Linked DNA regions of Homo sapiens. The protein of the gene in region 1 interacts with the protein of each later gene in a biochemical or structural test. Each region holds a gene or a part of one and is shown on either strand. Other genes may lie near its edges.

The links. Proteins that work in one complex are often made in the same cells at the same time.
Region 2: the proteins of FBP1 (region 1) and NOTCH1 form a complex in vitro, tested with the Homo sapiens proteins (one study listed by BioGRID).
Region 3: the proteins of FBP1 (region 1) and HIF1A form a complex in vitro, tested with the Homo sapiens proteins (one study listed by IntAct).

Annotation. Positions count from the first base shown.
Region 1 is NC_000009.12:94,618,158-94,623,448, reverse strand, and holds part of FBP1 (fructose-1,6-bisphosphatase 1), read left to right. Parts: intron 1-2,957; coding exon 2,958-3,120; intron 3,121-5,291. UniProt on the Homo sapiens protein: Catalyzes the hydrolysis of fructose 1,6-bisphosphate to fructose 6-phosphate in the presence of divalent cations, acting as a rate-limiting enzyme in gluconeogenesis. Plays a role in regulating glucose sensing and insulin secretion of pancreatic beta-cells.
Region 2 is NC_000009.12:136,500,155-136,504,642, forward strand, and holds part of NOTCH1 (neurogenic locus notch homolog protein 1 preproprotein), read right to left. Parts: intron 3,177-4,488; coding exon 3,028-3,176; intron 2,335-3,027; coding exon 2,118-2,334; intron 1,935-2,117; coding exon 1,847-1,934; intron 1,760-1,846; coding exon 1,594-1,759; intron 694-1,593; coding exon 398-693; intron 1-397. UniProt on the Homo sapiens protein: Functions as a receptor for membrane-bound ligands Jagged-1 (JAG1), Jagged-2 (JAG2) and Delta-1 (DLL1) to regulate cell-fate determination.
Region 3 is NC_000014.9:61,736,919-61,741,406, forward strand, and holds part of HIF1A (hypoxia-inducible factor 1-alpha), read left to right. Parts: coding exon 1-191; intron 192-1,168; coding exon 1,169-1,455; intron 1,456-3,586; coding exon 3,587-3,709; intron 3,710-3,836; coding exon 3,837-4,270; intron 4,271-4,488.

The DNA.
Region 1 (5,291 bases):
GGCAGACTTCACTTCCCTCTTTGGACACATGTGAAAGGGAGGGAGGCTCAGAAAGAGCAGGGGAGCCTGGGAGCTGAGGCCTGGACCTGGTCTCTGCCTTGAAGCCCTTCTTCTGGTCCATCGGTGCTATTTGCCCTCCGGAATCAGAAGTGAGTTTGACAGTGGGCTGGGCACGGTGGCTCATGCCTGTAATCCCAGCACTTTGGGAGGCTGAGGTGGGTGGATCACTTGAGGTCAGGAGTTCGAGACCAGCCTGGCCAACATGGTGAAACCCTGTCTGTACTAAAAATACAAAAATTAGCTGGATGTGGTGGCATACGGCTATAGTCCCAGCTACTCAGGAGGGTGAGGCACGAGAATCGCTTGAACCTGGGAGGCGGAGGTTGCAGTGAGCCGAGATCACGCAACTGCACACCAGCCTGGACAACAGAGTGACACTGTCTCCAAAAATAAAAATAAAAATAAAAATAAAAATAATCATAAAGTGACTTTGACAGTGCAACTCTCAGGCTGGAAAGGAGAGAGCACTGCTGCTAGTGGGGTCACTGAGGGAGCTGCATTTGAGCTGGTGGGCCCTGCCAAGTCCCTCTGGCCTCCCAGATTTTGGCTGCCTTCTTCCTGCACAAGCCCCAGCCTCACAATTGGGGTCAGAAAAAGATCATGTGGAAATAGGATCGAAAGCCCAGGGACATGGGGTGGAGCTCAAAGCTCGATAGACATCTTGGTCTTTTACTCATGAAATAGGAGTGATGGGTGAAAAGAGAAGCAGCAGGAGGAGGGCTGGTGGGATGAGATGTGCTTTGCAGGCTGGAAAGGGAATGATGCCAAGAGTGGCTGAAAGACGCTGACAGGCGGGCCCGAGAAGACAGCCGGAGCTAGCTCCTGAGATAGTCAGGCCGGACCAGGCATGTGGGTTTGGATGGTTTCTAGGAGGGGCTCAGTTTTGCCCAGCCAGTCACAGCGAGTTATGTTTTGGGCAAATGCACTTGCAGGAGCTGAAGCAGTCACGGCCACTGGATCAGGGACCGTCAGTTCCCAGGCGAGCGCACATCGCCATCATGGCCAAGGGCGCGGGTGTGCCCTTACCACCCACTTTCAGAGGCTTGCTGGTGTCTTCAAAGACCCATCTTTTCCCCTTCCCACATCAAGGCTCTCGCCTTGCTCTGTGCATCCTTCCTGTGAGACGTCTCCCTCCTTTCTGTGTTCAGGGCAACCCCAGGCTATGACAACCTGCCGCTTCTGTAAGTCTAAGAAGCTAGGCTGCGTTTAGACAAGCCACTGGATTCTGGGAATTCTATAATTACTGACTTGCAGGTTGCTTAAAAATAGTGAAAACTCCAGGATCCCTGCAACTTCCATGCCCTAGGACTCCTGCCAGGGGCCCAGGGTGTCACCAAGAGAGCCCTGGCCTGGGAGTCATAGGCAGGGTCTCGCCTCCACCCTCTGCCTGGGAGTCATAGGCAGCGTCTCACTTCTACCCTCTGCCTGTGTGGAGAAGTCCACAGGAGTCTTGGGTCTGAGTTTTCTCCTCTATGAAATGAGGCAGAGGGGCCGGTTGATGCTTTGTTTCTTTTAGGGTCTTTTTAGTTATAAAGCCATAAACCCCTTGGCTTGGCTCGCAACTCAGGCTACCCCCGACCCAGGCTTCCTTGCTTGCTGGGTCTCTCTATTGATTCGTTTAACCCGTGTGTTTGGGGGCCAACACTGGTTCTTTCTGGGCAAAACCAAAAACACCCGCAAACTTTTTATGTAAAAAGCACTGAGACACATACTGCAATAAACAGATATCTACTATATCTGTAGTATTAAAAATATTTCATGGGGGAGTATGGTTGAGGAAAAAATGTTCTAAAAAGCTCCCTAGGGGAATCATAATGAAAACAAAGTTAAGAAACACTGATTTAACCACAAAAGTGTGCAGGGCACCATGACAGGTTCGAGGTGAAGAGGCAGATGATAGTATCTCCTCCTCTCTAGGGTCTGTCCAGACCTTCCTGCCTTGTTCTCCCAAGCTGATGTCCTCCTTCCTTTCTTCTAAAAATATATATATTTTTAGACGGAATCTTGCTCTGTCGCCCAGGCTGGAGTGCAGTGGTGCGATCTCGGCTCACTGCAAGCTCCACCTCCCGGGTTCACGCCATTCTCCTGCCTCAGCATCCTGAATAGCTGGGACTACAGGCGCCCGCCACCACACCCGGCTAATTTTTTGTATTTTTTTTTTTTTTTTTTTTTTTTGAGACGGAGTCTCGCTCTGTCGCCCAGGCTGGCATGCAGTGGCACGATCTCGGCTCACTGCAAGCTCCGCCTCCTGGGTTCACGCCATTCTCCTGCCTCAGCCTCCCAAGTAGCTGGGACTACAGGCACCCACCACCACACCCGGCTACTTTTTTGTATTTTTTAATAGAGACGGGGTTTCACCATGTTAGCCAGGATGGTCTCGATCCCCTGACCTCATGATCCACCCGCCTCAGCCTCCCAAAGTGCTGGGATTACAGGCGTGAGCCACCACGCCCGGCCCTTTTTTAAAAAAATTATTATTATACTTTAAGTTCTGGGATACACATGCAGAATGCGTAGGTTTGTTACATAGGTATAAACATGCCATGGTGGTTTGCTGCACCCATCAATCTGTCATCTACATTAGGTATTTCTCCTAATGCTCTCCCTCCCCTAGTCCCCAGCTCCCTGAGAGGCCCCAGTGTGTGATGTTCCCCTCCCTGTGTCTATGTGTTCTCATTGTTCAACTCCCATTTATGAGTGAGAACATGTGGTGTTTGGTTTTCTGTTCCTGTATTAGTTTGCTGAGAATGATGGATTCCAGCTTCATCCATGTCCCTGCAAAGGACATGAACTCTTTCTTCTAAATCTTACCGAACACTCACTTTTGGTGGGTTTATGGACTCATCTACATGTTCTGGTGGTCATGGCTTATTTTTTGTGGCTTTTGTTCCCTGTAGCTATGGCATTGCTGGTTCTACCAACGTGACAGGTGATCAAGTTAAGAAGCTGGACGTCCTCTCCAACGACCTGGTTATGAACATGTTAAAGTCATCCTTTGCCACGTGTGTTCTCGTGTCAGAAGAAGATAAACACGCCATCATAGTGGAACCGGAGAAAAGGGTGGGTCTGTACTTCCACCATTGAGGGTTTTAATGTAGCCGGTCTTCTTCCCAGCTTCATAATTGACTCCACTTGTTCAGCTGAGCTGGGTTTCTGGGAGTCCCTCTAGATCCCTGCTGTGGTCTTTTCATAGCTTCCACCTCACTGCTGCCATCTCTCGAATCCTCCCTGAGCCACTGTGCAGATGAGTGTTGTGGCTCACGCCGCCTTCTCCCCAGTGGACTCCCACAAACTCATCTCCATTTCTAACTTTTTATTGCCATGTTTAAGGCTCTTCAAACCCTGGCTTCTGTTGGTCACCTCTTGTACTACATCCCTATCCACCAAATTCCTGACCTTCACACTGACCCTCCTGTTGACCTAGACTGCTTGAAACTTCCATCCCTGATGCACGCATTGGAGTCCCTATTGGTCTGTCTCTGCTTCTTTTTTTTTTTTTTTTTTTTTTTTTTTTGAGACAGTGTTTTGCTCTTGTTGCCCAGTCTGGTGTACAGTGGTGTGATCTTGGCTCACTGCAACCTCCGCCTCCTGGGTTCAAGCGATTCTCCTGCCTCAGCCTCCTGAGTAGCTGGGATTACAGGTTCCCGCCACCACACCTGGCTAATTTTTGTATTTTTAGTGGAGATGAGGTTTCACCATGTTGGCCAGGCTGGCCTTGAACTCCTGACCTCAAGTGACCCGCCCACCTTGGCCTCCCAAAGTGCTGGGATTACAGGTGTGAGCCACCACACCTGGCGTTATCTCTGCTTTTTGAGAGCAGAAAATGAATCTTATTTGTCTCTGTGTCCCAGTGTCTAGTGCAATGCCTGGCACATTGGAGGGCCTCAACAACAAATGACTGTTGAAAAAGATTGTTAAATGAAAGAGTATTCCCAGCTTTTATAAAACAACAATTGTAATTAGAAAAAAAAACTTCTGAGATTAGAAGTGCAGTTATATGGGCTTACTATCTTTCCCAGTTTGAGAGGAACTGGGAACATGAAGGAGTAGAATTAGGAAAAAACAATGAGAAGATGAAGAGGCTGCCTGTCCTCACCCTATTAAGAGGGCAGGAGCCACATCTGATGAAGTTGTTTTTCATCATTCCTAAAATAGCCGTACATGCCAGACTTGAAGTTCATGTTTTTCTCAGCTGGGCCTTTCAAGGTCTTTGGCAGCTTTAGGCGTATGGCTTAGATTTGTTGTTTAATATTCTCCATCACTCACGCCGGACTTCTCTTGTCTATCATGGGCCTTCATGATAGGCAGCTTCCTGTGTTCCAGTTTCCAGTTCCTCCTGCATTAGTGAGGGTGGTCTGTGAAGAGCAAGAGGGCAGGGAATCATGTTAATCTGCTACAGACATTTAAAAACGACATTGTAAAGTGGCTAATTTGGAGATGGAAAACTCCCAGTGATGTGCTGGTAAACTGGGTCTCAAAGCAAACAAACAAGTCTCTGATATGTCCACTTGCCTCTGTCAATGGTGTGAATACTCTCCCATCGTTGATTTTAAGCTACCAATGTGATATCACTGAAGGCAGAGTTGGGAAGAGATGTGCACCGTTAGCTCCTGAGAGCCGATACCAGCCAGCTCCTGCACACCACTGAAAATCCCACTCAAAACAGGAATCTGCGGTATTCCCACTACCACTGAAAGTTATCTACTTTGGGAATTACGCTAGAAATTTGTTTTGTTTAGTTTTGTTTTTAGAGACAGGGCCTCATTCTGTCACCCAGACTGGAGTGCACAGTCATGGCTCACTGCAGCCTCGAACTCCTGGCTCAAGTGATACCTCCTGTCTCAGCCTCCTGAGTAGCTGGGACTACAGATGTGCAGCATCATGCCCAGCTAATTGAATTTTTTTTTTTTTTTTTTTTTTTTTTTTTTTTTTTACAGAAGGAGTCTCTCTATGCTGCCCAGGCTGGTCTCAAACTCCTGGGCTCAAGCAATCCTCCTGTCTTAGCCTCCCAAAGTGCTAGGATTAGGCATGAGCCACCGTGCCCAGCCAGGATATTTTTGAAAACTCTATGCACCCCAACCTCAAGGGGCATCTGTAAGACCTCCATGAGAAGTTTCTTATAGATCTCAACCCTAGCAAAGTCTCTGCTTCACCTAAGGAATTATTTTTTTCCTTACAAATAAAGGAAAATGAGTGACTAACCTTCTTTTTCCTTTGGCTGCCAGGAAACT
Region 2 (4,488 bases), about 42 Mb from region 1:
CCTGCTTCTCACTGCCACAGGCTACGCCGGCAGCCAAGGTTGAGGGAGGGGCGGGGCTGCGAGGGGCTGCAGCAGTGGAACCTGGACCTTGAGCAAGGCCCACAACCCTGATGGAGCCTGTTTTGCTGGGGGTGGGGAGGTGCTGCCTCACTCAGCAGATCCCCCAGGCCTCCTGCCAGACCCGCCTCTGCCTGACTTCCCTGGAGAACACAGATGGGCCCGACGCCCTCCCCCTCGCACCTCGCTGACTGCGAAGGTCCCAGGTGGAGGCACCAGTTGTCCCGGACTCAGCTGTGCTCGGGGTCAGGCTCCCAGGGCCACGTAAGCCTGGCCACTGCCCCAGACCACCAGGCGGCCCTGAGGAGGGCAGGTGGGCACACAGGCAGCCACTGCCTACCTGGAAGACACCTTGTGCGTCGGCAGACACAGCCGCATGCAGCGGGGTGCGGCCCATGTTGTCCTGGATGTTGGCATCTGCGCTGGCCTCCAGCAGGCGCTTGGCGGCATCAGAGCGTGAGTAGCGGGCGGCCAGGTGCAAGGCGGTCTCGCCCGTGCGGTCTGTCTGGTTGTGCAGGCTGGCGCCCTGGTAGATGAAGTCGGAGATGACGGCCGGCGCGTCCTCCTCTTCCTCGCTGTTGCCCGTCTCCAGGCCGCCCCCGCTGCAGGAGGCGATCATGAGCGGGGTGAAGCCATCTGCAGAGGCAGAGACGGGTGCTCAGTCTGGAGGGCCGGTCCCCAGCTGCAGCCCAGGGGGAGGGGGGCAGCAGCCCCAAGCTCAAGGGGCCACGGTGTGGATGCACCACCCAGCACTTGGTGGCCCCGTGCACACAGCCACCAAGGGGCAGCTGAAGTCCGCCTGGGCTGCTCAGTGGACAGAGCCGAATCCAGCTTAAACTCCTGGCGGGCAACTGCTTCCTGACCTGCCCAAGACCTGGCACCCAAAATCCACCCAGGAAAAAGAGGACCCCAGAAGCATGCAGTTAGAAAATTAATGCTTCAGCAGGATGCGGAGGCTCACGCTGTCATCCTAGCACTGGGGGAGGCCGAGGTGGGCGGATCACCTGAGGTCAGGAGTTCGAGACCAGCCTGGCCAACATGGTGAAACCCCATCGCTGCTAAAAATACAAAAATTAGCCAGGTGTGGTGGCAGGCGCCTGTAGTCCCAGCTACTGGGGAGGCTGAGGCAGGAGAATTGCTTGAACCCGAGAGGTGGAGGTTGCAGGGAGCCGAGATCGTGCCACTGCACTCCAGCCTGGGTGACGGAGCGAGACTCCATCTCAAAAACAAAAAAAAAAGAAAAAAAAAAAGAAAAAGAAAATCAACGCTTTCCATGTCTCAAGAAGGTTTCAGAAAAGAGTAATTTACAGGGACAGAGTGGCCCTGCGGTATCACCCCAGGAAGGGGTTGGTGGAAGAACAGGAGGACTCCAGGACCCCCCCACGTCTACTCTGAATGGGAAACACCCCAAGGATGAAAGCTCTCACCCCCAATTCTAAGTTTCCAGAGTATCAACTGTACCCCAGCCTCGGGGCTTAGGGGAGAGAGGCAGGTGGGCCACGGGGCTAGGGAAGCCCTGGCTGCTGGCACCCTTACCAGGCCCGCGGACATTGACGTCCATGCAGTCGGCGTCAACCTCACCCTGGGGCGGTGTGGGGGCCATGGCAGACATGCGCAGGTCAGCGGCATCCAGGTGCTGCTGAGTCCACTGCCGGTGGTCTGTCTGGTCGTCCAGGTCAGGCAGAACCACGGGCTCCTCGAACTACATAGAGGGAGTGAGCAGAGCCTGTCAGGGCAGCCCGGCAGCAGGTGCCCGGGAGCCCAGGAGCCCGGGAGCCTCGCGACTCACCCGGAACTTCTTGGTCTCCAGGTCCTCGTCCCCCCACTCATTCTGGTTGTCGTCCATGAGGGCACCGTCTGAAGCGTTCTTCAGGGGCCTGGGGGGTGAGGGGTCGAGAAGTGAGGCTGAGCGAGCTCCCTAGGAAGCCCCCAGAGACCCCTGGCCCGGGCCTGGCGTGGGAGGTGGGCCCTGGGTCGGGAGGGGCAGACTCCCGGTGAGGATGCTCGGCCAGGTCCCACCTCCCACCGGGGACCCAGAAGCAGGGGCGGCGTCCGCTCACTTGAGGCCCACGGAGTCCTCGCCGAGGGGCTCCCGCCGCTTCTTCTTGCTGGCCTCAGACACTTTGAAGCCCTCAGGGAACCAGAGCTGGCCATGCTGCCGCCGGCGCTTGCGGGACAGCAGCACCCCGCAGCCCACGAAGAACAGAAGCACAAAGGCGGCCGCCGCCACGTACATGAAGTGCAGCTGCGCCGGCGGGGGCGGCTCCACGGTCTCACCTGCGGGCACGGGGGCCAGGGGCAGGTGCCCGGACATCAGGCAGCGGCTACGCAGCAGGCTGGTGGCCGGGGGGCGGCGGACTGGCTCCGCGTCCGGGCGCCTCCTCACCCACTCTCCTCCATCCCGCCCTCCAAAATAAGGTCATTTTCTACGCGATTAATCAGAATTGCAAACTATCGCTAAATTCTCTCCTGCACCAGCCGACTCTATCTGGAGACGGCTTTTACTTTTTTCTCCTTTAAGGAAGGAGGATTAGTCAACTTCAAATCGCTGCACTCGCACTGAGCTGTTAAGACAAAGGATTTAGAGGGATTTTCAAGATACAAACTTCAACACTTCACATGACACCGATCAATTCTTCTCTCTCTCTCTTTTTTTTTCTTTAAAAAAAGCCGTAATGATTTTGAAATAATACCCAACAAAGAAAATTCAGGAGGAAAGGGTGGGGAGAGAAGCAGGCACCCACTTTCCCGTGGCTGGACTCGTTCCCAGGTGGCTCCACCGGCAGCTGTGACCGCCGCAGGTGGGGGCGGAGTGCCATTCAGAAAATTCCAGAAAAGCCCTACCCCAACTCGGACGGCAACGCTCACACCCGTGGGTAGCAACTGGCACAAACAGCCAGCGTGTCTGGGGCACGGGGGGATGGCACCCCCTGCAGGCAGAGCCTGTTCCCGGGATGGGGCCACACTTACTCTGCACGGCCTCGATCTTGTAGGGGATGTTGAGGCTGCCCAGCGAGGCGAGCGCTCCCAGGAATGCGGCCACGTCGGTGGCACTCTGGAAGCACTGCGAGGAGGCCTGCACACACTGCCGGTTGTCAATCTCCAGGTAGACGATGGAGCTGGGCGGACAATCAGAGAGGGGCTGGGACCCGAGGCTTCCTCCTCCCCCGCCCACCGGCCAGGGATGCTGCCGCAGGACACTGAGGCCCATGACGCCACAGTCAGGACATGGTGAGGCAGCCTGGGGTGGTGGGAAGCCAGGTCTGACAGCAGCTACCCTGCAGGGGACTGGTGCCAGCCCCCCGACTCCGGCCAGTGCTGATCACGGCTCATCCCAGATACCCACCAACGCGCTCTCCCTGGCCCGCCCTGACACCCTCTCTGGCTCCTGCTGGTGCCACAGACACGTTTCCTCATCTCAGGACAGAGTATGTGCCAGGAGCCCAGTCCTCCCCCAGGAGCCATCCCCAGGCCCTGCAGGAAGCACAGGCGTGAGGTGGGGGTGGGTGCAGCGGTGGTGGGCTGTGTGGTGAGGCTGGCTGGGGGTGAGCTCTGCTCCCCAGGACTGGGTTCCCGTGAGCAGGATCCCATCCAGCCTGTGAGATGATGCTTCTGACCTCCAGGATTGCTCCAAGCCAGCAGAACTGACAGGCAAACCCACCAGGGTCAGGCACACGAAGGGCACAACCAACCTGGCTCCTGGGTCCAGCTGCCCCAGATCGAGTAGGCATGGGCGGGAGCCTTGTGGGGTGCCCCCTGCACTCAAGCTGCTCCTGCCTGTGTTCTCCCACCGTGGGACCCCCCACCCCCACCAGCTCCTCCTCCAACTGCAAGGCCCAGCAATGCCCCCTCCCAGGACCTCCACCTGCCTCCTCTCCAGCCCAAGCCAGGCAGACGCCATGACCAAGCGGCATTCTTGTCTGGGGTGGGGCTGTTCAGCCCTGTGGGAACCCCTGGAGAGCTGAGTGTTTTGTTTTTTACTTCTTTTAATACTTTTTTAAAAAAAACAGAGACAAGGTCTCCCTATGTTGCCCAGACTGGTCTCGAACTCCTGGGCTCAAGGGCTCCGCCTGCCTCAGCCTCCCAAAGTGCTGGGATTACAGGTGTGAGCCTCCTCGCCTGGCAGAGGGCTGAGTTTTAATCAGTGTAGTATCCAGTGCCTAAGGCACAGCTCAATCTCAAAATCACCTACTGGGCACAGGAGTGCCGCCTGTCCAGGGGAAGGCAGTGGCCCAGGAAAAGGGTGTGGCTGTGGGGTCAGGGCCCTGAGCTGGAATGCTGCCTCTACTCCTTGCCTGCGCAGGCCCTGAAGTCCCAGGTCCTCTCGGAACCTCCGTCTCTTTTACCATAAAGTGGGGAGAGTACTGCTTGCCATGGCGCCGGCCGTGAGGGGCAGGGAGGCCGTCGGGGAGGGCCCAGGAGAGTTGCGGG
Region 3 (4,488 bases), on another chromosome or scaffold:
CCTTCAACAAACAGAATGTGTCCTTAAACCGGTTGAATCTTCAGATATGAAAATGACTCAGCTATTCACCAAAGTTGAATCAGAAGATACAAGTAGCCTCTTTGACAAACTTAAGAAGGAACCTGATGCTTTAACTTTGCTGGCCCCAGCCGCTGGAGACACAATCATATCTTTAGATTTTGGCAGCAACGGTGAGTAGTTATTTTTGTTAATCCCCTAAATTGTGTCTGTTGCTACAAGCCCCATTTCAACTAAACATTACTTTACGGTTTTTGTTGGTAATCATTTGGACATTACAAGCTAATATATGTTTATAGTTTTCTTAAATGTATTTGCTTAAATATTTTTGCCCCCGTAATTTCTTACCATTCTTGCTTTTTTATACTGTTGGAAATTGTGCTTCAAAGTGTCCTTAAGGTATTTCTTCTTCCCACATAAATTTTTCCTGGCTACTCTATTTCTGTATCCTGCTGTCAGATTTTCTCCACAGTTTAGCAGAGTTATATGGAAGTAGGCATTGTTGCATTAAAGGATAAAAAAGTAGTCATACTATAACATCAAGCATTGAAGATGAAAACTGCAATTTTAAAGTAGAGAACATTTTAATGTATAAAAAGGTTGGTATTGCCTTTTGTCTTTTATGCCATAGAGATTAAGACGCGGTATCAATAGTGGATTGTAAAGGTAACTCAGACTTATGGTTATACTATACTATTGTATGTAAACTTTCTGATGAAGGAAAATTTGGTGACATTTTGTTGTTTGATGAATTAGACAAACCTTTTGTGAAAAAGAACATAAATTTTTTATATGTGAAAATCCTTGTGGCCGGGCGCAGTGGCTCACGCCTGTAATCCCAGCACTTTGGGAGGCCGAGGCGGGTGGATCACTTGAGGTTAGGAGTTCGAGACCAGCCTGGCCACCATGGTGAAACCCCGTCTCTACCAAAAATACAAAAGTTAGCTGGGCGTGGTGGTGTGCGCCTGTAATCCCAGCTACTTGGGAGGCTGAGGCAGGGGAATTGCTTGAACCTGGGAGGCAGAGGTTGCAGTGAGCCAAGATTGCGCCATTGCACTCCAGCCTGGGCAACAGAGCAAGACTCTGTCTTGGGTAAAAAAAAAAAAAAATCCTTCTATACTTTAGATTGACTCATATTTTTTCCCCACAGACACAGAAACTGATGACCAGCAACTTGAGGAAGTACCATTATATAATGATGTAATGCTCCCCTCACCCAACGAAAAATTACAGAATATAAATTTGGCAATGTCTCCATTACCCACCGCTGAAACGCCAAAGCCACTTCGAAGTAGTGCTGACCCTGCACTCAATCAAGAAGTTGCATTAAAATTAGAACCAAATCCAGAGTCACTGGAACTTTCTTTTACCATGCCCCAGATTCAGGATCAGACACCTAGTCCTTCCGATGGAAGCACTAGACAAAGTTCACCTGAGGTAGGTGTCATGATATAATCAGAAAGGGACAACTTTCAGATTTTAACATTCAAGAATGTATTTATAAGTTTGATTCAAACACTTATTTGAACCACAAATTACATTTGTGTGTGTGTTTGAATTTTAGCACTTTAAAATTATTGCAAGAGCTACTGCCTAACCTAGACCTGAGCACATGTTTTAGGCTCAAAGATAGTCAGGAACATGGGAAGAAACTAGCTTAATATAAACCAAAAGGTGAAACGTACATTGTTTCTCTATTATTTATATCAGTAGGACAAAAACATCTTGAATTTGGACATTTAAAGAGAATAGTACTAAGTGTGCTCAAGGTAGCTACAGCCTATACCTGTTACCCCTTTTAGTTTGTTTTATTGTGTTTTGTTTTGTTTTGAGAAAGAGTCTCACTATCACCCAGGCTGGAGTGCAGTGGTGCAATCACAGCCTCAACCTCCCAGGCTCAAATGATTCTCCCACCTCAGCCTCCCAAGTAGCTGGGACTACAGGCCTGCATCACCATGCCTGGCTAATTTTTTAACCTTTTTTTGTGTGTGTGTGTGGAGTTGGGGTTCTCACTATGTTGCTCAGGCTGGTTTTAAACTCCTGGGCTCAAGCGATCCTCCTGCCTTGGCCTCCCAAAGTACTAGGATTACAGGCGTGAGCTACCATGCCTGGCCCATTACCCCTTTGAGTTGGAGAACTGTCTGGTAGCAATAGACTTACGAGGGTTTAAATGGGAAAGGACCTTATAAATTCTTTGCCCAATTTAGTCTAATTTCCATCACTATTTTGAAATTTTGGGTAAGTATAATATGAAAATAACAAGTGTTACATAAAATAAATACTTAGTAACTGGTCTTTTTTATTCTGGATCTGTCTTGATATTAATTGTCCTATGAACACAAAAATAATCTTTAAAGGCTAGGCTGGCCAAGACTTAGAGATATCACACAGGGCTCTATTTCTAAATCTAGAATGATTCCATTTTAGGGCTTCCTACATCTAAAAATATGCTCAGGAGTAGGGCAACTTAGATCTGAACATTATAACTTGATAAATGAGGCATAAATAAGCTTTAATAAGTGGTAAATAATTCTACATTAGGTATTTGTTGAATAAAACTGACAAGCTAAGAGTAGGGGATTTGACATCTCACAGCCTTGTGTTGAATGAATATATATCCTATGCTCTGGTTGCTTAATTTACCCAGAAAAAAAAATGTTTGATTCATCTTGGTTTTTATCTAACAAAAGTAAATCTAACAAAAACGTTAGAATGAGGAAAGCAAAATTTCTTGTTTAGAATACACAGCTATAGTTTTTTGTTAAACTTCTTGCCCAGAACTCTTAAAATAGTAATAATGTACATTCGTTCAGGTATATGCAGGTAAAATAACTTAGGTTTCTACTCCCACCCCCGACAGTAACAGTGAGATTTTTAGGTAGCTCAGTCACCACAGGAGTGTGCCTTCTCAGTTCAAAGGTAAATTCCAGTGAATGTAGCATCTAGTTAATTGGTCAATTAGGTACCATTGTGGGATGTGAATTACCAAATAGGTTTTATTCTTTAGAATAAGGTGTTTCTTTTCATCTCAATTTTGTAAATGATGTTATATTACATAGTCAGAAATATATATATTGGCAAAATTAGTTACCAGTATAAGCTTCAAAATGTCACTATTTTCACAAATTTTTTTTTTTTTTTTTTTTTTTGACATGGAGTCTCACTCTGTCGCCAGGCTGGAGTGCAGTGGCATGATCTTGGCTCACTGCAACCTCTGCCTCCCAGGTTCAAGTGATTCTCCTGCCTCAGCCTCCTGAGTAGCTGGGATTACAGGCGTTTGCCACCATGCCTAGCTAATTTTTGTATTTTTAGTAGAGACGAGGTTTCACCATGTTGGCCAGGATGGTCTCGATCTCTTGACCTCATTATCCCTCCACCTTGGCTTCCCAAAGTGCTGGGATTACAGGCGTGAGCCACTGAGCCCGGCCTAGTTAAATAAAATTTGATAAACACGATGGACTTGGTTGTGTGTTTTCTGGTTTTTCTGAGATCTAGTTTGAAAATTCTGACAACTAGCAAAGTATATGGAAGCTTCTTCAGGAAATAGTAAACATATTTCTTTTTACAGCCTAATAGTCCCAGTGAATATTGTTTTTATGTGGATAGTGATATGGTCAATGAATTCAAGTTGGAATTGGTAGAAAAACTTTTTGCTGAAGACACAGAAGCAAAGAACCCATTTTCTACTCAGGTATATGAACTTATTTGTTTTATATTAAATTTCATTAATTTTTAGTCTGAAGTGACTTTGAGTTTCACTTGTTTTTTATTTATAAGGTGTGGCCATTGTAAAAACTCATGTATTTGCTGTTTTAAAGGACACAGATTTAGACTTGGAGATGTTAGCTCCCTATATCCCAATGGATGATGACTTCCAGTTACGTTCCTTCGATCAGTTGTCACCATTAGAAAGCAGTTCCGCAAGCCCTGAAAGCGCAAGTCCTCAAAGCACAGTTACAGTATTCCAGCAGACTCAAATACAAGAACCTACTGCTAATGCCACCACTACCACTGCCACCACTGATGAATTAAAAACAGTGACAAAAGACCGTATGGAAGACATTAAAATATTGATTGCATCTCCATCTCCTACCCACATACATAAAGAAACTACTAGTGCCACATCATCACCATATAGAGATACTCAAAGTCGGACAGCCTCACCAAACAGAGCAGGAAAAGGAGTCATAGAACAGACAGAAAAATCTCATCCAAGAAGCCCTAACGTGTTATCTGTCGCTTTGAGTCAAAGGTATTTATATGTAACATTCAAGTTATAGTTCTTTTATTATTTTTGAGATAAATGTATGTGATAGTACATGATTTTTAAACTTATAGCAAACTTTCTGATATATATGCCCTAACGCAAATTCTTGAGAACTCAAAAAACTTTCTAAATTAACCTCATATATTTTTTCTTTTTCTTTCTTTTTTTTTTTTTTGAGACAGAGTCTCGCTTTGTCGCCCAGG